Homo sapiens: one gene and its partners. The protein of the gene in region 7 interacts with the protein of the main gene of each other region in a biochemical or structural test. Each region holds a gene or a part of one and is shown on either strand. Other genes may lie near its edges. The genes, in order: DDX23, HNRNPUL1, TOP2B, HNRNPC, HNRNPAB, ADAR and ERG.

What was found.
Region 1: the proteins of ERG (region 7) and DDX23 form a complex in vitro, tested with the Homo sapiens proteins (one large-scale study listed by BioGRID).
Region 2: the proteins of ERG (region 7) and HNRNPUL1 form a complex in vitro, tested with the Homo sapiens proteins (one large-scale study listed by BioGRID).
Region 3: the proteins of ERG (region 7) and TOP2B form a complex in vitro, tested with the Homo sapiens proteins (one large-scale study listed by BioGRID).
Region 4: the proteins of ERG (region 7) and HNRNPC form a complex in vitro, tested with the Homo sapiens proteins (one large-scale study listed by BioGRID).
Region 5: the proteins of ERG (region 7) and HNRNPAB form a complex in vitro, tested with the Homo sapiens proteins (one large-scale study listed by BioGRID).
Region 6: the proteins of ERG (region 7) and ADAR form a complex in vitro, tested with the Homo sapiens proteins (one large-scale study listed by BioGRID).

Annotation. Positions count from the first base shown.
Region 1 is NC_000012.12:48,842,164-48,845,663, forward strand, and holds part of DDX23 (probable ATP-dependent RNA helicase DDX23), read right to left. Parts: coding exon 3,411-3,500; intron 1,888-3,410; coding exon 1,777-1,887; intron 1-1,776. UniProt on the Homo sapiens protein: Involved in pre-mRNA splicing and its phosphorylated form (by SRPK2) is required for spliceosomal B complex formation.
Region 2 is NC_000019.10:41,302,372-41,305,329, reverse strand, and holds part of HNRNPUL1 (heterogeneous nuclear ribonucleoprotein U-like protein 1), read right to left. Parts: intron 2,666-2,958; coding exon 2,381-2,665; intron 1,359-2,380; coding exon 1,069-1,358; intron 1-1,068.
Region 3 is NC_000003.12:25,658,408-25,661,907, reverse strand, and holds part of TOP2B (DNA topoisomerase 2-beta), read left to right. Parts: intron 1-3,500. UniProt on the Homo sapiens protein: Key decatenating enzyme that alters DNA topology by binding to two double-stranded DNA molecules, generating a double-stranded break in one of the strands, passing the intact strand through the broken strand, and religating the broken strand.
Region 4 is NC_000014.9:21,262,943-21,266,442, forward strand, and holds part of HNRNPC (heterogeneous nuclear ribonucleoproteins C1/C2), read right to left. Parts: exon of another isoform or gene 3,451-3,500; intron 2,607-3,450; exon of another isoform or gene 395-2,606; 5' UTR 369-394; exon of another isoform or gene 1-368. UniProt on the Homo sapiens protein: Binds pre-mRNA and nucleates the assembly of 40S hnRNP particles. Interacts with poly-U tracts in the 3'-UTR or 5'-UTR of mRNA and modulates the stability and the level of translation of bound mRNA molecules. Single HNRNPC tetramers bind 230-240 nucleotides.
Region 5 is NC_000005.10:178,207,533-178,211,663, reverse strand, and holds the end of HNRNPAB (heterogeneous nuclear ribonucleoprotein A/B), read right to left. Parts: exon of another isoform or gene 3,383-4,131; intron 3,194-3,382; exon of another isoform or gene 2,749-3,193; intron 2,335-2,748; coding exon 2,217-2,334; intron 1,533-2,216; coding exon 1,392-1,532; intron 1,112-1,391; coding exon 1,041-1,111; 3' UTR 501-1,040; downstream 1-500. UniProt on the Homo sapiens protein: Binds single-stranded RNA. Has a high affinity for G-rich and U-rich regions of hnRNA. Also binds to APOB mRNA transcripts around the RNA editing site.
Region 6 is NC_000001.11:154,601,687-154,605,186, forward strand, and holds part of ADAR (double-stranded RNA-specific adenosine deaminase), read right to left. Parts: intron 941-3,500; coding exon 1-940. UniProt on the Homo sapiens protein: Catalyzes the hydrolytic deamination of adenosine to inosine in double-stranded RNA (dsRNA) referred to as A-to-I RNA editing.
Region 7 is NC_000021.9:38,488,478-38,491,977, forward strand, and holds part of ERG (transcriptional regulator ERG), read right to left. Parts: intron 1-3,500. UniProt on the Homo sapiens protein: Transcriptional regulator. May participate in transcriptional regulation through the recruitment of SETDB1 histone methyltransferase and subsequent modification of local chromatin structure.

The DNA of each region.
Region 1 (3,500 bases), on a different chromosome or scaffold from region 7:
GGAGGGAGGTGGGGGGGGTTAGCTCCCCACCCGGCCAGCCGCCCCGTCCAGGAGGGAGGTGGGGGGGTCATCCCCCCACCCGGCCAGCCGCCCATCCGGGAGGGAGGTGGGGGGGTCAGCCCCCGGCCCGGCCAGCCGCCCTGTCCGGGAGGTGAGGGGCGCCTCTGCCCGGCCGCCCCTACTGGGAAGTGAGGAGCCTCTCTGCCCAGTCAGCCGCCCCGTCCGGGAAGGAGGTGGGGGAGGTCAGCCCCCCGCCCGGCCAGCCGCCCCATCCGGGAGGGAGGTAGGGGGGTCAGCCCCCCGCCCGGCCAGCCACCCCGTCCGGGAGGAAGGTGGGGGGGTCAGCCCCCCGCCCGGCCAGCCGCCCCGTCCGGGAGGGAGGTGGGGGGGTCAGCCCCCCGCCCGGCCAGCCGCCCCGTCCAGGAGGTGAGGGGCGCCTCTGCCCGGCCGCCCCTACTGGGAAGTGAGGAGCCCCTCTGCCCGGCCAGCCGCCCCGTCCGGGAGGGAGGTGGGGGGGTCAGCCCCCCGCCCGGCCAGCCGCCCCGTCCAGGAGGTGAGGGGCGCCTCTGCCCGGCCGCCCCTACTGGGAAGTGAGGAGCCCCTCTGCCCGCCCACCACCCCGTCTGGGAGGTGTACTCAACAGCTCATTGAGAACGGACCATGATGACAGTGGCGGTTTTGTGGAATAGAAAGGCGGGAAAGGTGGGGAAAAGATTGAGAAATCGGATGGTTGCCGTGTCTGTGTAGAAAGAGGTAGACATGGGAGACTTTTCATTTTGTTCTGTACTAAGAAAAATTCTTCTGCCTTGGGATCCTGTTGATCTGTGACCTTACCCCCAACCCTGTGCTCTCTGAAACATGTGCTGTGTCCACTCAGGGTTGAATGGATTAAGGGTGGTGCAAGATGTGCTTTGTTAAACAGATGCTTGAAGGCAGCATGCTCGTTAAGAGTCATCACCACTCCCTAATCTCAAGTACCCAGGGACACAAACACTGCGGAAGGCCGCAGGGTCCTCTGCCTAGGAAAACCAGAGACCTTTGTTCACTTGTTTATCTGCTGACCTTCCCTCCACTATTGTCCTGTGACCCTGCCAAATCCCCCTCTGCAAGAAACACCCAAGAATGATCAATTAAAAAAAAAAAAACCCAAAAAAAACAAAATCTGGTGGCAGATGCCTGTAGTCCAGCTACTCAGGAGGCTGAGGTGGGTGGATCACCTAAGCCTGGGGGAGTCAAGGCTGCAGTAAGTTGTGATCACACCACTGCACTCCAGCCTGGGCAAAAGAGACCCTGCCTCAAAAAAATAAATAAAAATAAATAAGAAAGAGAGCTCTGTAATAACTACCAACAGAATCTGTTAAGAGAAATCTACTTTCTTTCTTTCTTTTTTTTTTTTTTTTTTTGAGACAGAGTCTTGCTCTGTCGCCCAGGCTGGAGTGCAGTGGCGTGATCTCGACTCACTGCAGGCTCCGCCTCCCGGGTTCACGCCATTCTCCTACCTCAGCCTCCTGAGTAGCTGGGACTACAGGCACCCGCCACCACGCCCGGCTAATTTTTTGTATATTTAGTAGAGACGGGGTTTCACCATGTTAGCCAGGATGGTCTCGATCTCCTGACTTCGTGATCCACCAGCCTCAGCCTCCCAAAGTGCTGGGATTACAGGCGTGAGCCACCACGCCTGGCGAGAAATCTACTTTCATAAGAAGCTGAGCAAACTCAGGTGCAGAGAAGAAATGGGAGCATTCCCCTAAAGCCCCCTCTCATTCCTTCATGTACCTGGATCGTTTACGGTCCTTGTCCCGTCTGTGCCCATCCTTGTCTCGATCTCGGTCCTTCTTATTCCGATCCCGCTCCTTATCTCGTTCTCGTTCTTTGTGCCGTCGTTCTCTGGAAGACCGCAAATTTAAGAGTTCACTTGGTATTTCCAAAGTATCTTGCTTCACTGCAGCCCTGAGAAAGTTCCTATACTCTCGTCCCAAAGTAATGTTTTACAAATTAGAGAATGTATCTCTCACGGAAATAACGAGGGAATTCTAAGAAGCTTTTATAGATCAGAGATGTACTGTTAAATATTAACGGCAATGACAGGTCACGGACTATGTGAACAGATGAACCTTCCTTTTTTATTTTTTTGAGATGGAGTCTCACTCTCACGCCCAGGCTGGAGTGCAGTGGTGTGATCTCGGCTCACTGCAGCCTCTGCCTCCCGAGTTCAAGGAATTGTCATGCCTCAGCCTCCCGAGTAGCTGGGATTACAGATGTGCACCACCATGCCTGGCTAATTTTTGTATTTTTAGTAGAGACGGGGTTTTGCCATGTTGGCCAGGCTGCTCTCAAACTCCTCACCTCAAGTAATCCACCTACCTCGGCCTCCCAAAGTGCTGGGATTATAGGTATGAGCCACCGCGCCCGGCCACAGATGAACCTTCCTTGATAACCCGGACCTTCACCTTACTAGTTCCCTCTCAACTTTTTTTTTTTTTATTTTTAGTAGAGATCAGGTATCACTGTGTTAGCCAGGATGGTCTCGATCTCCTGACCTCGTGATCCACCTGCCTCGGCCTCCCAAAGTGCTGGGATTACAGGCGTGAACCAACCGCGCCCGGCCCCCTCTCAACTTTTAAGAGTTGGGTCACTGAGGAAAACTGAAAACACCTGCAGGTCCAACTGGGCTAGGAGTAGATTAATGTACAAAAAGTAGATGCCTAGCCGGGCGTGGTGGCTCACGCCCGTAATCCCAGCACTTTGGGAAGCTGAGGTGGGTGGATCACCTGAGGTCGGAAGATTGAGATCAGCCTGACCAACGTGGAGAAACCCCGTCTCTACTAAAAGTACAAAATTAGCCAGGTGTGGTGGCACATGCCTGTAATCCCAGCTATTCGGGAGGCTGAGGCAGGAGAATTGCTTGAACCTGGGAGGCAGAGGTTGCAGTGAGCCGAGATCGTGCCATTGCACTCCAGCCTGGGAAACAAGAGTGAAACTCCATCTTTTAAAAAAAAAAAAAAAAAGGCCAGGCGCGGTGGCTCACGCCTATAATCTCAGCACTTGGGGAGGCTGAAGCAGGCAGATCACGTCAGGAGATCGAGACCATCCTGGCTAACACGGTGAAACCTCATCTCTACTAAAAATACAAAAACATTAGCCGGGCATGGTGTCGGGCGCCTGTAGTCCCAGCTACGCACTCAGGAGGCAGAGGCAGGAGAATGGCGTGAACCTGCGAGGCGGAGCTTGCAGTGAGCTGAGATCGCACCACTGCACTCCAGTCTGGGTAACAAACAGAGCGAGACTCTGTCTCAAAAAATAAAAATAAAAAGTAGATGCCTAATACTGGAGGCATCAGAAGAACCAAGAAGGAAGAAATCTGAAACGTACTCTCCCTTCCCATGTAATAACATACAAAGTTACTTTACCTTTCTGCAGATTTGGAACGGGAACGAGAGCGAGAACGGCTGCCTCCTCGACGTCTATCCCTTGAACGATGCCGCTTTCTATCTTTAGAT
Region 2 (2,958 bases), on a different chromosome or scaffold from region 7:
TAAGCTTGTGTGTATAAACCACTGGGTACTCAACAGGTGGTGGTAGTTGTTACTGGAAGATCTGCTGAGAAACAGTAGTGGCAATTGACTAAGTGCTTCCCAAGTACAGGTTGGATCATTACATCATATAATCTCCATATAGAACCTAGGGGTAGGTCCCACTAGCCCCATTTTAAAGAGAAAGAAACTGAGGCTCAAGATGAAATTTCTGGGCCAAGGAAAAAGGACTTGACCCCAGGTCTGCCTAGTCCCAGAGCTATAGTGCCACCCATTCCTCACAACAAACCTTGGAAGGGACTTCTACTAACACCTTTATGAGGAAAATGAGGCCCAGAGACGGGAAGCTATTTGTCCAAGCTCACAGAAACAGGATGTTGTGGGGCTGGGGGTTTGGATCTGTGCCTGCCCAACTCTTGTTCTAAGAAATATTCTAGTTAGCTGGGCCTGGGAACCATCCATTGGTCTCCTGGCAGCTGATTCCAGGCCCGGCATGAGGAAAGTGCTTGGGAAATGGCTGTGCGATAACTGAAAACCTCTCTGGTTTACAGGAGCCTGTGCATACCAGAGCCAGGGCACTGGCTTTCCAAGAATGGGAACTGAGCCTGGAGCTGCTCAGGATTGAAGCTCTCTGTGCAGAGGGCAAGTCCTCAGCAACCTTAGTGCCCTGGTTATTATGTCCAAAAGACAAAGAGGTCAGCCAGCCTGGGCAAGGGGTGACTCCAGTCAAGTGCTTTCTTGGGGATTTAGTGAGGTTAGTGACACTAGCCAAGAATAATGTACTTGCTGGAGGGATCAGTGCTTACAGCCCATCCCCTTGAGGGTGGTGGGAGAAGAGCAGGTTCTGGGAAGGTCTACATTTACTCCTGGGTTTGGAGGGGATCTGGGAATGTGTAGGGTCCATCTGAGTCAAGATCACGGCCAGGGAGAAAGAAGGGCAGGCTAGAGGTTAGAGTGAAGACCAGTAGCTGGGGCATGTGTTGATTTCCCCAGATCCGCCTCCACCTAACTTGCTCAGGTTCAAAAGCACACGTGCGATCACTACATACAAACACACACTCATTCTCTCACCTGTGGAGGGCTGTAGCTGCTGACGGTGGGGGTGCTGGTATTGGCGCTTGAGCCAGGGATGTTGCTGTTCTTATTGTAGGTGCTGGCCCCTGGGGGGTTCCGAGCAGGGCTGTAGCTGGGTGGTGGCGGTGGCTGCTGGGGTGGTGGCTGTGGTGGCGGAGGCTGCTGTGGTGGCGGCTGTTGCTGGGGAGCCCGGTTGTAGCTGCCTCTGTTGTTGGAGTTGTTGTTATCCCGGTTGTTGTTACCCCAGCGGTTCTGGCTATAGCCACCACCTCCGCTGCGGTTGAAACCTGTGTTGGAGAAATCCAGATGAAAGGCGCCATCATTCCCAAATGGCAACCCCAGGGAACTGGGTTGTCTTGGTGACTACTGTGAGCCGGCATGGCCAGGCGCAGAGCAAGAACTCAAGGTGAACAACAAAGCATGTCCTCTGGGATTCTCTAGACCCCCGGGCATACTCCCCTGTCCCAGCCCTTATGACAGGTTTGTCTCATTCACTGGACTGCAAGAATGGTGAGGCAGAGACCAAGGCAGTCCTGGGTTTCTGTGTCCCAGCATCTCAATAGCTGTTGAATATGCAGGAAGGAGATGCTCAAGGAGAGGAAGCTGGCAGGGTGCGGTGGCTCACATCTGTAATCCTAGCACTCTGGGAGGCTAAGGCGGGTGGACCACGTGAGGTCAGGAGTTCAAGACCAGCCTGACCAACATGGAGAAACCCCATCTCTACTAAAAATACAAAATTAGCCGGGCGTGGTGGTGCTTGCCTACAATCCCAGCTACTCAGGAGACTGAGGCGAGAGAATCGCTTGAATGCCGGGAGGCAGAGGTTGCAGTGAGCCGAGATTACACCATTGCACTCTAGCCTGGGCAACAAGAGCAAAACTCCGTCTCAAAAAAAAAAAAAAAAAAAATGAGAGGAAGCTAAGCACTGGTGACAGCCATGAACGAGTCACATCTAGTCCTCTTCAGACCTGGCCAAAGATGTAGCCCCCATTTCCAATAGATTTTGATCTAGATCCTATTTCCAAGGAGCTCATGGTCAGATGGGGGAAGGTTCACAAAAATGACAGCAATGTGACAGAATGTGCACTGTGATATGCAAATGGGCAAAGGGCTTCATAACCAGCGTCCAGGGAGTGGGAAAGTGGGAGCGTTTCTGAGGTCTCCGTGTCTGACTTGTTTCAAGTTTTCTACCAGAGTATAACTCACAGCTGGAGCTCAGAAAACTTCAGTTGCTGATTGAATAAGCAGTCAAAGCCCAGCCCCAACCTGGGAACAGAAAGTGGAGAGTGCTGTGTGTGAGATGTCTCACCTCCTCGGTAGTTGCCTCCTCCACCGCTGCCTCCCCCTCGGTTCTGGAAGCCGCCACGGTTGCCTCCAGGGGGTCCTCGGTTTTCATAGCGCTGGAAGCCACCACCACCCCCGCGGCCCCGGAAGCCACCACCACCTCGGTTGTCAAAGCGCTTTTCAGGGGGTGGCCCAGCCTTGCGGCCTTCCTCGTTGTACTGCCTCACTAGCTTGTCCGCTTCCTCCCGCTGCAGCTCAATGAACAGAACCTCATCCAGGAAGTCCCCAACATCTGGCAACGTGAAGTTGGCTAGGAGGAAGGAAGTGCCCCAAAGAGAACAAGAAGAAGAGGTCAGTACCTTCTGAAGTCTGGTCCCCTCCACCCAGAAGAGTGGCCTTCCAGAAGGGAGAAGGTGAAGAAAACTGGAATAGTGAATAAGAAAGACATAGACAGAAGGGCGGGCGCGGTGGCTCACGCCTGTAATCCCAGCACTTTGGGAGGCCGAGGCGGGTGGATCACCTGAGGTCAGGAGTTCAAGACCAGCCTGGCCAACATGGCAAAACCCCATCTCTACTAAAAATACAAAAATTAGCCAGGCATGG
Region 3 (3,500 bases), on a different chromosome or scaffold from region 7:
AGAAATAAAAATAGAATTAGCCCCTGATTTCTTTCTTCTGGGTGAGGAGTTGTATGCCATGTGTTGCTGATATTAACTACTGTTGGGATGCATGCCAGCATGTGTTGTTAATGTCATTGCATGAAAATTTGCCTTTCAATATCTGAAACTACAAAGCCAAGTGGTTTTAGGACTGGCATTAACTTATTTTAATAATTCATTTGGTTTGTGTTTGATTTGTAGGAGTATCTCAACCAGAATTTTTTATAATTAAAAAAAGTGAAAAATATAAACATGGCAAAGCTATTTTGATTTAAAATGTATAGCAGTTACAAAGGCTTCTCTTAAGGCAGCAGGGTTTCTTGAATTAATTCTTTGTAGAGCTTTGATTAGTAGATAGTAATAGTCTGGTTCATTCTGTCAGTCTTGTATCATAAGTGATTGTAACAAAGACATTTGTGGAAATACTAGAATACAGTTATATGACTTAATCTTTTTCCCAACAATATTCTAACTTGGTAGATTAAAAAAAATTTTTAATGGAAAATGTTAAGCATCTCAAAAAGTGGTAACCAGAGTAGTATAACAAGCTTCCCTCTATTTAGCCTTAAGCTTCAATAATTATCAACCTGCCGGGTGCGGTGGCTCACGCCTGTAATCCCAGAACTTTGGGAGGCCAAGGCAGGCGGATCACCTGAGGTCAGGAGTTCATGACCAGCCTGACCAACATGGAGAAACCCCATCTCTACTAAAAATACAAAATTAGCTGGGGTGGTGGCGCATGCTTGTAATCCCAGCTACTCGGGAGGCTGAGGCAGGAGAATCGCTTGAACCTTGGAGGCGGAGGTTGCGGTGAGCCGAGATCACGCCATTGCACTCCAGCCTGGGCATCAAGAGTGAAACTCCGTCTCAAAAAAAAAAAAAAAAAAATCAACCTAAGACCACCCACTTTATCCCTTCTCATTCTTTTGAAGCAGAGCAAATCCTAGAATTTTATCACTTTCTCTGTAAATATTTCAGTATTTATCTCTAACAGTAAAGTCTCTTTTTGAAAAACTGTATAACCACAAATAACATTGTAGTTTTCTCAAAAGTCACATTTTTTGAAATATATAACATATTTTTGGAGTGTGAATATCTCTAATTAAACATGACTATGTATTTAAATATTGTTTAAAGATTTATTTTAAGAACCTTGCTTTAGTGGTTTACTGTTGCGAGTCTAAATTGCTGAGCCAGACTTTCATAAACTATGTGCCCTTTCCAATGAAATTTATTTATTATAGTCTCCATAGTTAGATTTATCTCTTCACTGTCCCCTACACAAGTTAGGCTTGTTTTTGTCACTTTGTCTTTACATATTTGCCTTCCATCTGGAATTACTTTTTCACTTCTCTTTACTAGTCTAAATCTTAACTGTTCTTCAGGGCTAGCTCAGAGCCTTGTCACATTATTATTTTCCAGTTGATACTCATCTTTTTCTTTCATTGAATGTTTGTTACTCTCATGAATCATAAAACAGAAGTCTTTATTTTTTATGTAACTTTCATGCATGATAACTTTGCCTTAATATTACAAATTTCTGAAGTTAGAGAGCATGTATTTTCCTTGTTTATGTCCTTCAGAGTGTTAAACAAAGAACTGGATACGTAATCCAGTCTCAGTTATTTAAAAATTGGATAATTGACATGCTGACTTCCTAAAAAGTCTTCTGTCATTAGTAGGACAAGAGTTTAAGTAGCAGTGTTTTTTAGATACATTCTCAAGTACATGATATAGCAGTATTTAGGCACGTTTTTAATAAACTTAATTTTTCTGAATCGAAGTATGTTCACCTGTAATCCCAGGTTTGTTGGTTAGGTGGTGGCAACAATTGCATTTTACTGAGTACACTTTAAAAAATAAACTTCTTGAATTTTTAAAAGTATTAACACGTATAGAACCCCATTTTAACGAAAAGTTGAAGTAGCTATAGTTATTCCTATTTGCAGAGAAGGAAACGGGTTTAGAGATTAGGTAACAAATTCTTAGGCACATGGTTAAGGCACAGGTGGAATTTAAACCAGACTCAGTGTTCTTAACATTTACACAGCCTTCAACTTTAAAAACATTGAAAGACAAAACAACTCATCTTTTATACTCTGATAAGACAGAATAAGGAGACATCTGGGATATACCTGTCTTTTTCTACTAACCTTTTACTTTCATACAAAAAGCTAAGGAGTATATTTCCTTTTCAGAATATGTGTACTTAGTATAGCATAATGCTAAGAGTATGGGCTGTGAAATCAGATCATCTAGTTTCATAATTCACCTTTGTCAAGTACTAGTTTTGTTAGCTTTGGGAAAACACTTATCCCAACCTTAGTTATCTCATCTGTACAAAGGGAATTATAACAGTGTCTATTTCATGGAGATACTATATAAGAATTAATTAAGATTATCGTAGTGCTTGGCACATAGTAGCTCCCAGATGGGTTCACACATACATTCTCCCTTCTTTTTTAATCCAGTGATAAGTATTTTCATTCCCTTTATTATAGAGAAAGCCTATTTTCATAGCAGAAGTCTAAGCATTTGTTACTGTCTTAAGTATCTCTTATCTCTTCCTTGCCCCTTTGTTTAGAAGGGTATTTCTGAAGGAGCATAGACAGGGGACAGTTTGTTGCTTTTTGCTTCATTAATGGTGGGTAGATAACATGGCCTCTCCATTTACATATAGGTGAAATATGGTTAGAATGAACATCATGGGATGGCAGCCTTGAGGGAGAAAAGAGAGAGGAGACATTATAAAAGGTTGGTGTTAAGTCTGAGGGGATTGTACAGAAGAAGGTAAAAGAAGGGGCTCGTTGCTAGGCTGCCAGCCCCCACTTCCACTCTTGTTGGCCTGGTGATGGTGAGCTTTCTGTGTTGATTATGTGAATGAGTGGCTCAGTTCTTTTTTAGTACCAACTGGCAAACCATCTCCTTTACCCTGTTTGTCAGCAATTCATTCTCCCTCAGAAAAACAAACTGGGTGCTTCTGCCAAATTGCTATATTTCAGGTGACAATTCTGTCCATTGAAGAATCTTTTGTTTTGTTTTGCAGAATGATCTTGGTGTATAGTCGTTCTGAAAAATAGGAAGTTTTACTGGAATGTTTTCCATTTTCTTCTGAAGACTGAGAAATGTTCTTGAAAAAGATCAAATCTTGGATTAGTATTAAATCTGTTTTTTTATTAGGCATTAGCAATATTGCAAAAGTGCCATAAGATAGGTTAATATTTAAAATATATAGTCTATATAGTTATTTTGGTATTTTTGTTATAATTTTAAATTTTCCCTAAATGCTTTGTTTAATTTGGCAGCTGACTTGAAATTCAGAAAAAGTCAATGATGTTATCATCATATTTATAAATGAAAAAGAATATAATTAAAACAACTTTTAGATATGTGTAGGAAATTTAATATGGTGATTATTTTACACTTTTATTGTCTTCATGATAATGAAAATGTAGCCTTGATTTTTTAGATTCCAATTT
Region 4 (3,500 bases), on a different chromosome or scaffold from region 7:
GAAAAATAAGGTCATAGACTTAACAGCCAGTAAAATTCTTTTCAGTGTGGGGAAGGGGATGAGGGCAAGGGTGGGGTTGGGAGAGAAAAGGTTTACGTGATCAAACCACTTAAAAATACTAATGCCTTCGCTTTCTCTCCCAAGATGCAAAACTCCAAAGTCAATCAGGAGGCCGGAGAAATTCTTAGAAACATTCAGAAAAACTCGATTTTAATCCGGTTAAAAATCATCAGTGTCATTATCATCATCATCATCACCATCATAAGTATTAATATAATAATAATAAGTAATAGTAACTAGTAACAACAATAAAAAGGAAATCAGCGGAAAGTCAGGAAAAATGTTAAAAAAAAATTGGAATAACTTACTGTAGCTGAAGATCAAAAAAATCTCACTGTAAAAAAACAAAAATAAAAATAGCCCAGATTAGAAAAACGGGAGGTGCAAAAATGTCAAGTCAGTAAAGTTCATTTCTTTTCTCTTTCCAAAAGCAGTTTCCACAAAAACCGCAAGGATAAAGTTTTCAGTAGCAGACAAGCAAAGCCCTTTCCACATCATCAATCAATCTTAAAAATACACGAGGAAGTAGAGAGGTCAGTTTATGAGAGGCTAAAAGGCTCCTCCTCCTCTAACCCAACTGCTGCAGAAAAAATAGAAATAGAAATTTTAAAAATTACATCTTAAATCCAGGTCCCGGTTTTGGAAACAATTAAAAAAAAAACACCTGTACATTTGCTGTAGTGCACACCAAGTTGCATCATTATGTTTAAAATGTCTTTATAAAATCAGTTTTGGAATGGAATGTGTGTGTTCTGGAAGGGTGGGGAAGGGAGGTTAAAAATCAAAGCTGAGCTCCAGTGAGTAGGGATGGGGTTCGCCTTGCTGCCCTGTGAAAGGAGAAGGGACAGATTGAGTCAGAGTTCCTCAGAAATGTTGTGCCCTAAACCCCCAAGACAGAAACATCTGTCTACTGCAGCTAACACATTTTGGTAAAGCATTAACATTCCACTGGGATGGGATAGCCTCCATAGAATCACCTCTACCAGTGACTGTCTTCACAATTCTTCAACATCAATAGATGACTAAAATTAACTAAATTCATGTCAATATGCCCTTGAGGGTCTCAAAAAGAGTATATCCCAAATGTTCATCTTGATAATGAGCAGTTTGGGCAAAGAAAATACAGAAAAACCGGGCCAACAAATAGAGATGAAATAGTGAGCAAATGTCAAATACTGAGATTATAAAACCTAAGCAGATTCATGGGTTTTAAACTTAAAAAAGTCCGTGGAGTTTTTGCTATGAGTAATAGACTGAAGGTGAATGGCCTACCATGAAGATCTATACTAGAGATGACTCATCTATTCTCAAAACCAGTGAGTGATCAAACCACAAGACCTAATAGGTTCTACTGTTAGGGGAAAAGATGTTTTAAATAAGGAGCACATTATTCCACTCACTGACAAAACGAAAATACAGATGGAATTAAAAAAATACTGAATATTTAAGGTCATAAAATAGGTGAAAAAAATTAAGGTCCTTATGTTAATACTTTTGTTTCTGTAGTCCACTATTTACTATGTAGCGTGTAAAGCTAATTTCAAGTTATGGATTCTAAAAATCTGGTACATAATACCACACTAAAATAATTTCCATGACAAACTGGTTGTTTCATCAGCTAAAATAGGAACTGCAATTAGACTGTAGTTCCTTGTGCAAACAATGAACTAGCTGCACTCACTGTTCAATTTAGCCATGAGGTCTTATTCTCCTTTGTAAATTTGAGGAAATTAAAATATTTTAAGGCCAAGTGTGGTGGCTCACACCTGTAATCCCAACACTTTGGGAGGCCAGGGTAGAGCACGGCTTGAGCTCAGTAGTTTGAGACCAGCCTGGGAAACATGACGAGACTTTATTAAAAACAAAAAACATTAGCAGGGTGTGGTAGCCTGAAATCCCAGCTACTTAGCAGTCTGAGGAGCGAGGATCACTTGAGCCCAGGAGTTCGAGGCTGCAGTGAGCTCTGATCACGCCACTGCACTTCAGCCAGGCCAGAGAGAGACCCTGTCTCAAAAAAAAAATTTTTAATTGAGCTTTTAGAAGTGTTCCTTGAGCCAACTATACATGAATGACTACAGCAGCAACAAGTACCATACATTTTTAAAAAGAACAGTGTAGGAATGACAGTTAATTTTTACATTTGATGTGTGAAAACTGTATGAATGTACAAATTGCGGAAAAAGTTTGTGAAGAATTGTAAGAAATATACATCTGAATGTTCTTTTCCTGTTTATGAAATACAGTTATGGTGAAACATTTCATTTTCTTATTTGGAGCCACAGCCCAAACCTGGTAATCAATTTTCAAGATACATAACTTTATAGCTCAACCACAACCAAGTCCTTTGTACAGGTGCCACAAGACATAAGCTTAAAAATAAAGAAAAATGTGAAAAGAAACCAATTCTATCTTTCAATATCAAAAAGCTCAGTATCTCCCAAGATGTTATTTATGTTAAACTGAAGAGCTACCACTCATAAAAAGACCAACTTTAGCACCATTTTCAATCAAGAATATTCCTTGAGGCCAGGCGGCGTGGCTCACACCTGTAATCCCAGCACTCTGGGAGGCTTGGGGCGGGTGGATCACCTGAGCTCAGGAATTCAAGGCCAGCCTGGCAACATGGCGAAACCCTGCCTCTACCAAAAATACAAAAAATTAGCAGCACTACTCAGCAGGCTGAGGGCACCCCTTGAGCCCGGGAGGCAGAGGGTGCAGTGAGCTGAGATGACACTACTGCACTCTAATCTGGGTGACAGTGTGAGGCTCTCAAAGAAAAAAAGTATCCTTACCTAAAGCTCAGAGATAGTTTTAGAAAAAAAGTATCTCTAGGTTATTCTTTGTCAAAACCTGCCTGAGGTTTGGATCCCTTCTTCTAAAGGGGCACCTCTCAGAATGAGTGATGCATGAGCATCATCACCTGGAACTTACTAGAAGTGCAAACTCTCAGGGCCCACCCCAGACTTACTTAATTAGAAACCCTTGTGGTAGAGATCATAGCAATCTGTTTTAACTAGCCCTATTGATTCTGGTGTTGGCTAACGTTTGAGAACCACTGTGAAGATTTTAAATTGGGAATCTCTCTATTCCCCAGTTTAGAATCAATTATTATCATTTTTTTGAGATGGGGTCTCACTCTGTCGCCCAGGCTGGAGTGCAGTGGTGCGATGGCTCACTGCAACCTCCACCTCCCAGGTTCAAGCGATTCTCCTGCCTCAGCCTCCCGAGTAGCTGGGACTACAGGCGAGCGCCAGCACGCCAAGCTAATTTTATTTTCAGTAGAGATGGGGGTTTCACCATGTTGGCCAGGCTGGTCTCAAACTCCTGACCTCGTGATCCACCCGCCTCAGCCTCCCAAAGTGCTGGGATTACAGGCATGAGCAGCCACACCCGGCCTTAGAATCAATTCTTTAAACAAAATGCCTGACCTTCCAGTGTAC
Region 5 (4,131 bases), on a different chromosome or scaffold from region 7:
CGTGGAACCCCAACCCACCCTTGCCTCTTGTAACCACCTAGTCTTATGCCCTAAATACCAGACCTGGAGTTGGGCTCCAATCCAGCCAATAAACATCCCCTGCCAGAGCAGGCTTTTCTTCACCAGCCAGGAGGAGCACTATTGTGCCCCAATTCAGACGGCCCTGGCACTGCCCTAGTGTGTAAAGAATCCCATTTTTTCATTCATCAGCCAAGAAGGTTGGTGTTCCAAGGTGTCCCAGGAGGGGACATGCCTGCTGGGGATGTAAGCCCTCATCACTGCCCCATCCTCACTCCCCATAGGCCTCTCATTCCTTTCTTTGAAGGGGGGCTCAGCCCTAGGCAGGGCAGTCCTTAAAGGATACCCCCACAACTGGGCCTGCAGCTGGAAGAGCCTGCTGCAGGAGAAAGCCCCAAGTCCAGGGCACCTGGCACCCCCCCCCCGCCTCCCTCGACCCTGAGCAAGAGGTCTCACACAGCATATCCCACACTCACCCAGGCTTGGGGGTTTTTAAATTTTATTTCAAAAGCTTGGATAGCTTCAATATCCAGGTTGTGGCAAAATCAGGACACGTGTAAAATACCTTACAATACATTAGATTCCCAAAAGGTACCAAAAAGTACAGTAAAATTAACACTTCCGTTACAGGAAATGTATGACGCAAATAATATAAAATTAAAAGGTGAAAAAAAGGTGACACTGGTTTCCTAAGATACAATTTACTCTTTACAACCAGGGTCCACAGGTCCAGGCTGCAGAGCGGCAGCAGGAAGCAGAGCCTCCCACCTGCTTCTGGGGGACCTGGTAATAAAAATCAGCCCATGATGGCGCTATGGCCTCTCAGACACCACACGCTGCCTAAACACCTAGAGCTCTGGAAATAGTCAACAGGAGAGTGATTTCCATGGGGGAAATTTTAAATAAGATGCACATGGGACAGGCAATAGAAAGTTTGCCAAGTTAAATTTGGTACATAATTGTGTTCACTCCATATCCAAACAAAGCATGTGTGCGATCAGTTGGTCGCTCCTGCTGCCGCCTCAGTATGGCTTGTAGTTATTCTGATGGCCACCACGTCGCTGGCTCTTGCCGTAGTTTGTACTACCCTGACCTAGGGACGAGAACAACCATAGCAGCTACTATTTACAAGCATTTGCCCTGTGCCACGCGCTTGATATGCATCTTCCCAGGACCCTCACCAGCCGTGACAGCAGAGACTGCCTTCCTCATGTTATTAAGACCCCGAAGTCTAAGGCTCAAAATCAAGTAGCTCCCATGGCTGAGCCAGGCCTGTCTGACTCCAAAGCCCCTGCTGCCAGTGGCTCCTACACTGTCCTGCCTCCCCTGGGGACGAGGGGTGAGCGGATGGGGCCTCCCTCTCTCCTACTTACTGTAGTCGTAGCCGGGGCCGTAGCCGTAATAGCCATAGGGCGAGTAGTCGTAGCCGCCATAGCCAGGCCCGTAGCCCTGCTGGTAGCCGTAGCCCTGGTTCCAGTAGTTGCCGTAGCCCTGATTCCAACTCTGACTCTGACCTGTGGGGGGAGCAGGGCACAGGGGCCCGTGGACCATTTAGCATACGCAGGAGCTAGGATGGAGGAAATCCTGCCCTTTGGGGTGGCAGGGTTACTGTGGCAACTCAGGCAGAAGCCAAGGGGCTGCTGTTCTGGTGTATAAGGGCCCTGGGCCCAACCCTGCATCTGAGAGACCCAAGCAGAGGATCAGAGACCAGGATGCTAACTTTACTTGGGGCAAACAAGGCAGCTCACTCACTCAGTCACTCTCTGATCACTCCCACTCTCCTTGGCAGCTTAGCCTTTAAAAAGATGCAGTTCAGGCTTTGGAGTCAGAGGGGCCTGGGATGGAAGGGGATAAATGCCTGGCACAGCTCTGCCCTACCCACCCTTCTGCCTACCTGCTCACAGGTGTACCAGACTCAGGACATCCACAAAGCCAAGACACCCATCACATCCCCTCCCCCAGAGTGTAACACAAATGCTCTCTCTGCCCTGGGCACCCAAGCCATTCCAAGGGGCAGCAGCAGGCAACAGCCTCAAGCATACAGCCCTGACCCAGAGCCGTTCCTATTCCTGTTCGTCCCCAACCTCACACAATCTGCCCACCCCTGCTGCACAGCACCAGAGGGAGCCCCAAGACAGGCTTGGAAGGCTCCATGTAGGCAGGGAAACAGGACCTATCTTCATCCACGTTCCACTCACCTCCACCTCCACCACCACCTCCGCTGCCTCGGTTCCCTCGGTTGCGGTTTCCACGGCCCCCAGAGCCATACTGCTGCTGCTGATAGACTTCTTTGGGCTGGGCCACCTTGATCTCACACTAAAAGTCAAGAGGACAGTGGTCAGGCCAGTAGGACAAACTCAGGGCAGTGACTGCCCAAACACCTTCACTGCGACAAACATCAAATGGTGGATCAGGTCCATTTGCTGAGAAACAAAATATGCTAGTATGGGAGGCCACCTTTGGGCTAAAGCTCATGGAATCCCAACTAAAACCAAAGGCCTTCCAGCAGAGAACCCTTCCGACAGAATGCACTTGAGATGGGCATCTCAGCCCCAGAGCAACTCCGTATCTAATGGAGGCAGGCAACTGGGCCAACTGCAGCCCAGGGGAGCAGAGGACAGGCTGGGACCAGGCACCACACCTTGGTCCTGCTGGGCTAGAGGGTCAGACAAGACTTCTCAGATGAGGGGCCTTAGACAATGAGGTTTTAACATCTTTTTCTCTTTACAGAAGAAACTCATCTCATCCAAATACACGCTATTGAGAAGGCGAGCCTGACCTCCCTCTTACAGATAAAGTCAGCTTTCAGAGGCTCAGGGTGGGGGGGCCTGCCCGAGGCCATAATGCTACCCACCCCCTCCTCCTAACCACTGGTCTGTTGGAATAACCCAGATGTCTGCATCCCCTCAAGTCAGTCAATTTCCTTTCTGTCCACTGGGGGTGGAATGGGGTAGGGTGGGATACTTTAAAGTGCTCCTGCTTAAATAAATTAGACCAGACCAGTGTATTTCTAAAGAAAATCCTGACATGCACACCCATTAAAAATAGTACATTTTACAGTGTCCCAGTCATACTTTTAATTGGCAAATTAAAATAATGCAATCTGATATATTCTATCCTACTAAATTAAAAATACTGAATATAACCAACTAAATATACTTACTCCTAAGACTCACTACCAGTAGTTTCACTTAAACTCTGCCTTAGAGGCTCTTCCCACCCATTTCCCATTATGGCACATAGAGAAAAAGGCCTCTATCACTGTCCACTGGAGTAATAACCACTGCTTCCCCTAACTGCCTCAAAGACTGTCATTTTATAGAAAATTTAAGACTATCCTAATCCACTCTTTCCAAACTCCCAGCCAGGATAGAGACTTCCAGGAGTTCCACCTGTCCCACCTTATCTGGCTGCCAACTCCTGCTCAGAAACAGAACCTGCCACACCCTGCCACTGCAGGCCGCACCCTCAACTCCCAACTGCCAACTTGAAGCCTGAACTACCCTTTCCCTGACCAGAGTTCAGGAGGGGAAGAGCTACACCTCCCTGCACATGAATCCACTCATTTGAAAGCACAACTGACCCTGGATTTAAGCTGGCCAGGACCCTGGGAGATCTTTGGAAGGATTTTTGCCTGGGTTTAGGGTTAACTTAAAGAGGTGCCCAGAAGACCAAGTGAGGCAGTTCATGCCTGTAATCCCAACACTTTACAAGGCCAAGGCAGAGGATGGCTTGAGCCCAGGCAACATGGTGAGACCAGGCTTTAAAAAAACATATGAGCCAGGCATGGTGGTACATGCCTGTGGTCCCAGCTACTCGAGAGGCTGAGATGGGAGGATCCGGTCCGCCCATGAGGTCAAGGTTGCAGTGAGCCATGATTGTGTTACCGCACCCCAGCCTGGACAACAAAGCAAGACTCTGTCTCAAAGCAAAAAAAAAAAAAAAAAAAAAAAAGTGCTCAAAGTGGATGGAAGTGGACAAAGACTTGGTTGTAGAAGGAGGTAGAAAGGCTCTGGAATAAGAAAAACTTCACCACAGAGGAGAATCAGTGAGTTGCAGAAGTTCTAGGATCTTCTGAGACCTTAAACTGCAGGCTTCATACCCCTGGACTCA
Region 6 (3,500 bases), on a different chromosome or scaffold from region 7:
CCAAATTCAGGGCAGAGGAGTCAGACACATTGAAGAGATAGTCGCAGATTTTCTCCTTGATCTCGGCCATGTCTAAAAACTCAAGAGGATCTTCCAAGGCAGATGTGGAGTTGCTGTCTTCAGGTTCCAAACCTGGGTCTGAGTTTGGGGATCCTTGGCTATGACTGTCTGGTCTTACCACTCCGCTGTGCTGGTTCCAAGCCTGAGCTGAGACTGCAATAAAAGGCTCAAGAAGATCTTCTGAGACAGATGTGGAGTTTCTGTCTTCCGGTTCCAAACTCGGGTCTGAGTTTGGGGCTCCTTGGCTATGACCGTCTGGTCTTACCACTCCGCTGTGCTGGTTCCAAGCCTGAGTGGAGACCGCGATTTTCCACAAAGGGGGTGTTCCTGCCTCTTTCTGTAGCTTGCCCTTCTTTGCCAGGGAGTATAAAACTCGATTGATTTCTTTCTTCGGAGTCCCAAGTTTCCCAGACAGATCATGTGCTGTGGTGGCCTTCCCTTCCCCAAGCTCTTCCAGGAACTTTAAGATCCTTTGTTCCTGATCTTGGTAGATACTCAGTTCCTGGAAATGTGAGGAAAGGCAATCAACACCTCTCTGTGGCAGACTCCTGCCACGTGGTGAAGGATGCTGGAACCCTCTCTGGAGCCCCTGACTTCTGAGATGCACGCCCCTGGGGACACCCCTGATGTCCACTTGCCTGCCTCTGGTACTGGAGGCAAGTAGTACTGGAAACCTTGGCCGGAGTCCTGGGAGGGAAGGTGGCAGTGACGGTGTCTGCTTTCCAATCACCGGTGCTTCTGGGAGCTGCCCCTTGAGAAATTCTATTTGCTTAAGCAGGAAACTACTGGGGGAAGATCCTGGCCCAGGCTGCTGGTACCTGAGCTGTCTGTGCTCATAGCCTTGAAATGGATGGGTGTAGTATCCGCTGAGGGAATACCCCTGCAGAATAAGACAGTGGAAAAAGAAAATGAATTAGGGCTGCAGTGGTGAACCTGTGGAGGCCCCTCCCTTTGCTGCCTGTGGAACAGCCCTTGAAGGGCTGAGAAGGCAATTGAGCCATGGGCTTATGACTTGGCTAGGGTGACTTGCCTACCTCCTAAATCCTGCCTAGGGGCCTGCCAACAGGAACACAGAGAGGGGAGCAGGAGGCAAAGCACGCAGAACTTCCAGGAATACAGAGGTTCTGAGGCCTCAGCATAGCCTCTCCAGCAACCTAACTTACTTTTCCCTTTGACAGAATTTAAGGGAGTTGAGAAGGTAATTTTCTAGTTACCAAAACAATTACCCCTTTAAAATCAGAACAACAAATATATGTTATTGTTTTGAAAACAAAAACAGAATAACCTGAAATAACCAGAACAATCACATGAAATAACAATAACCAAGGGAGATGGGACTAGGGAAGGGACGAGATGACCTCTCCTTAAGTCAGGCTCACCAGTGCACCCCTTGCCCACCTGTCTCTAAGATCTATCGTTTAGATGACTATGACAAAAGAAGAAATGTGATTGGATGAAACTGAACCCCAGTCCTCCAAGGCTGTAACAGCGCAGTAACGAAAACAATCTCCAGGTGGGAAAAGGCCACGGGACCTCAGAGTCATCTCTGTGGCTCTTCACTGCCATCCCAGGAGGATCAGAATTTGGTCTTCAGGGAGCTGGAGGGTTTCCTGATAAAAATGGCACACTGTCCTCACTCTTCAGTGTGGTACCCAGGCTCAGAAGGGATGCCAGAGACTTTTGCCCAAACCACCCAGGCTCTCCTGGATGTGTGGAGCTGGCAGCATCTGCTCCTCACCACCTCAGACCAGTCCTACCTTCCCTAGCTACTTCCCCATAGCTGCTTCCACTGCACGTTCTTCTGAACCCTGACGGACAGGGCACAAGCAACCCCATGTTCTCATATGCACATTTACCAGAACACCAAGCACCTGTGACCCCTTTCCCCACCCACCCACCTGCAAACCAGTACTGTCTTCTCCCCAGGGCTGTTCACTGGAGGGTGATGGAGCCAGGAAGTACTTATAAGCCTGGGGGTGTCAGTAAACACCTTGCTTCCTTTCCCTGGGGCTTGTAGACTGGGAGGAGGGATTCTGACAACATTTACTCACACTCACCGCCCCCTCCTCAGACTCTCCTGGAGGCTGCACAGGTAGAGGTGGGACCCTTTCTTCCATAACTCTAGCCTTCTACTCTTCCACATCCTGACACACTTAGGGGATTTCAGCATTCTTGTCAATCACTCTCATGGTGTCCTGGCTACAAGGATCCTTAACCCAGTGATCTCCATCCCTACCTTTCTGCCACACAATTGGCTTGTCTAGCTACTCCTTCAATCTCACTATGACTCTAACCTAGGCCATCACACCAAGACCTCAAATCCTGCAACTCTTTTCCAGTGGCTGATAAACTTTTTCTATAAAGGGCCAGACAGCTCTGCCACTGTAGCACAAAAACAGCCTCACACAATATGCAAAACTTTATTTACAATTCATTTACCATGAAGCTTTATTTATAAAAACAGGTAGTTTGTACCTGTGGGCCATAGTTTCTTGACTCCTGCTCTTTTCTGATGGTGACTTCCCTGTGTTTCTACAACTTCACTCCTTACTCTGGTGGAACCTGCTCCTCGCATGACCCCGGTGAAGCTGCCAGTAAGCCACCCTGATTCTTCCCCACTCTGACTTCACACACCTCCTCACCCCACCTGGATCTCATGGTCAGTTCCCTTCTCCACCCAAGGCCCACTGTCCCCCTTTTCTTCTCCAAAGCTTCCCAGTGGTACTGGAGAAGGACCTTGACTTGTGCTAACAGGGTCCATAAAAATTCCTTCTCTTGAACCTCATTTGGGTCTTCGCTGTGTGGTGGTCAATTGTGTTTAACAAACATGCCTTAGTTCACTGTGGATTGAGTACTCTTCTTTTAAAAAATTCTCCTCCCAGGGTTTGGTGACACAGCAAAGGTCTTTCACCTCTTTTTTCTTCTTTGTCCCTTTTTCCCACCCCTTATAATTTTTTAATAGCTACTGTATTAACGGATCCACCCTTTATATAATCAGTCTCCAAGGTTTTAAGGACCTCTTCTTCCTTTATAATTTATTTCCTAGGTTGCTTTAATCACTGCCCCAACCTAAACTAGCCCTCTGAAGCAAGAGCACTCAAATCTACTATGTCCAGCCACTACCTTGTGTGGGAGCTTAAGATCTGAATTTCCAACTATGTCGACAGTCTGTCCACTTAAATATCCTGCCATAACTCAAACAGCACATATTCTGAACCAAATTAATAGTTCCCTCAAACTCAGCTCCTTCTCCTGTAGTTCTTATTGCTAATGGCATCACTCTCCTCCTAGCCTATTAAGGCTAGAAACCTGCGTCATCTTTGCTGCCCGCCTCCTGGCCTCATCTCCTGGATCTCATCAGGTAGTTGCCAAGTCCCACCTTGTCTGCCACCTCTGTACTGTGTCTTAAATGTGTTTTCTTCCAGTTCCAGCCCCTCATT
Region 7 (3,500 bases):
CATCCTGTAGATGGCTAATTGATGATGCCCTATTGTTTAGTGTGTGTGCACTGTGGTTTTATTTGCTTCGGTTCAAAGGGCCTAAACAATGCATTCGTTGGAATTTAGTAACTGCTGTAAAATCAGCACAGAGAACAATCTGTGAGCTGATATTTTTTGTACCCAAATCTGGTAATCTCTGCTTGACTAAAGAAAGCAAAATCTAAAATGACCTTTCAACTAACCATAGAAAAGGCCTTCCATTGAATCTCAAAGAGACTTATTTTTCTACCAAATATAAAAACATTCGAATTATGCATCATTTTCCATGATTCAAAGGAGACAGAGGTGCCTACGGGGCATGTTACTCATAGACAAGTCTATTCTAGTCTAATCACGTCCCCTTAAAAATCACCGAGTAGATGACACCGAGGATGAGAACGAGGTACTGTAATCATTACTTTAGAAACTTTATATTTTTACCTGTTTCAAGACAGAATTCTCCTAGAAAATCTGGAGCAACAAGCTTATTCCCCTTGGAGAGGAGATAACGAATAATGGACCACGCATTCGGAGAGAGGAAGTTTCCACTGGGAGCCCTTCCTGCATCAGTGCGTCTCTGGTTGGGCTGGCTATCTGTGTAGGAAGTGAACGCAGGAAGTATCTGTCTACAAACCCTTTATCCTCAAGGTAATTGCTGTAGCAGCATTTTACTGTTTACCAAAGCAGTAAACATGTGATCTAAAAAAAGATGTTTTCCATCTCCAGAAGAACAAGGCTTTAAAAAATGTATACATGTGCTTATTTTGTAACCAGCTTATCAAAATTGGTTACAATAGGCTTGGGCTTTCAACAGTGAGTCCATGAAAACAGCTCTTGGGATGGACAGAGGTACCCTCACAGGGATGCACAAGAAACAAAGAAGTGGCTTCCTTCACTAGAATGCTATCCTAGCAACACACATTTTATGTCTTTTCTCCTAAGACCGGCTTAACCGAGTTCATACTGTTTGGCTTACAAAGAAGGTAAAGTCAACAAAACTATCTATGTTAATTCAGGTTGGTAGAATGAGTAATTCACAAAGTCCAATAACTCATAAAAGTCACTTACATTTGGCCTTGGACAATATTCTTATTTTTACGTGACTATAAATATGCTTCCAGTTTAGGAGTTCACACAAGACAAAGTGAAAAGTTAGAACTCAAAAGGAGATGTGTAGTGGCTGCTTTTGCTGACTTTTGCCTGGCGTAGGCCAAGCCTCCTGGTCCGTCTTTTCCTTTGTTTCTTTATTCCAGATCAAGCTTGCAAACCTGCACCGTCCCAGATTTCCTGGGGTAAGAGAAGTGATTGTCTAGGAGAGGCAGCTTGGAATGAATAAAAACAGGTCCAGGAAGGATCCCTCAGCATTTAAGAGGCTCAGGAGGGGTCCCCCTCATCATCCTTGTTGTCTTTTGTGTTTTTCAAGCCGCCTTCCAGGTGGATAGCGATTGCAATGAGAGAGAAAGAGTATGGAAGGAGAATAAGAAGAATAGGGAGACACAGAAGTTAACAACGCCCTGAATGTCTCCTTCCAGGACCTGCTGTGCAGTGTCCGGTGAACTCACCAGCAAGCATTTCCCAGCCCTGTTTTAAGCAATCTCCAATGCAGATCAGGTGCTCGTGAATAATTGGGAGCTCACTGTGTCTGTCAGAGTTCTTACTTTATAATGAAGAGATAAAAACATGTTCATCACAGGAAAATGGACAAATTGGCTAATTGAAAACAAAATTCAATTCACAAACTGTTGTAGAAATTGAAAAAAAAAAGGTAGGGGGAAATGCTTTTCATAGATTCCCTGATTTTAGTCTTAGAAGAAAAATGTATTTGGCTTGAATGAATAGTAAAATTAACTAACTTTGATTGAGGAGCTTATGTGTGCCATATACAGTTCTGGGCTCTTGCGACTTGGTGAATCTCACTATAACCCTGTGAAGTAGGAACTATCACTCTACCCATTTCACCGATGGAAAAGCCTATCTCCTGTGAGGCTGTGGCTTGCCAAAGGTGAAATGGCCAGGAAGTAGAACAGCCAGGGAGTGAACCCCAAAAGCCAGGTGGGAGCCCATTTCCCCTGCCCACTGCACGAGACCCCTCCCCGGTTTGAAGATCCGATAGGGGCACTGCTGTTAGCTCCCCCTGCGTCCTGGCAGCAGCACAGTCAGCAGATGGTCACTGTGGAGAAGGCGGAGCTGACCACCTCCATTTTCCTATAAGGGAGCTAGGGCCAGGAGAGGTGCGTTCACCTGGGGAAGTCCTGCAGCATCAAACTAAAGCTCCGGGCCACCCTCTCCCAGATGGGCCTCTTTCCACTTCCCCTTGCCAGCAGCTATATCTATGCCTCCCATCCGTTGCACGGAAGATAAGGCCAATCCCTTTTCCACAGAGGCTATTTTAAGGATGCCACGAAGAAATACAGAGTACCAAGTGCCTCCCTGGGCCAAAGATAAAAGTGGGCTGTGCTCTCTGGATTCAACCTTCATGTTTTTGATGCTCTCTGGAAGGTCAGGGAAGGCACACATATCGTATGGATCCAAAGAGGACTACGCAATGCAAAACCACATACTTTTTTTTTCTTTTTAACTTGGAGCAATGTCTTGGGACATCTACCTCAAATTGAGACACAAACTAATTGTGTTGACAGATTCTAAAGTGTTGTTTCAACAGTTTCTTCTTCCTCAAAGGTGAGCATCATGTGCACACTGTCAAAATTAAAAAAAAAAAAAAAAAGACCCAATAAAACCCGATGAAACCCAAAGAGCATGGAGATGAGAAACTCACTGCTGGCTGACGATCTGAATGAATGGCCTTGGGGGGAATGTGAATGTGGAGGTAGCAGAAGGGTCCTGTCTTCAGTGCTGATTCTGTATCAATACTTGGTAAATTTAAAAAACAAAAAAACCAGCAAGGGAGATTTTAAATCATCAAGGCAGAAGGATTTAAAAAGTGGAATGTGTTAAATGCAAGAGTGCGGGATCTTTGCATAAAGTTATTATATTTTCAAAAATTCGACAAGCATTGTTTTTACCAAACGTGTTTAAAGTAACAGCCCTGAGGTTAATGTTATGATTGGATTCTGATGTGGCACTTTAAAAATAAATCATTTTGCTTGGCCTTAGCATTTCTTTTCAAAATGTCTCTGTACTTATCTGTGTACAACAGCAGATTACCGTTCTTCCCAGAGTTTAATTCCATGAACACCCTGCTGAAAGACTTGTTAAGGCCTTATGGAAAACTCTGACCTGCGTGTTCATTATTGACGCCCAAGACGAGTGCAAGGAAGTTGATACTTGGGATGAGGAAATTTAAATCAGCAGCTGATCTGGAATCTGGAAGCACTGCCCCTTGGATCTCGCCAAATATGGAAAGAATTCTTGTCACTGAGCAAATATAGAATTCAGTGCTAGAGTTTTACCTCTTGAATTTTCTAGAACTTTGTTTTGATTAGCCACCTAGAGTATAAGAATTGCTGCCTATGGGATTT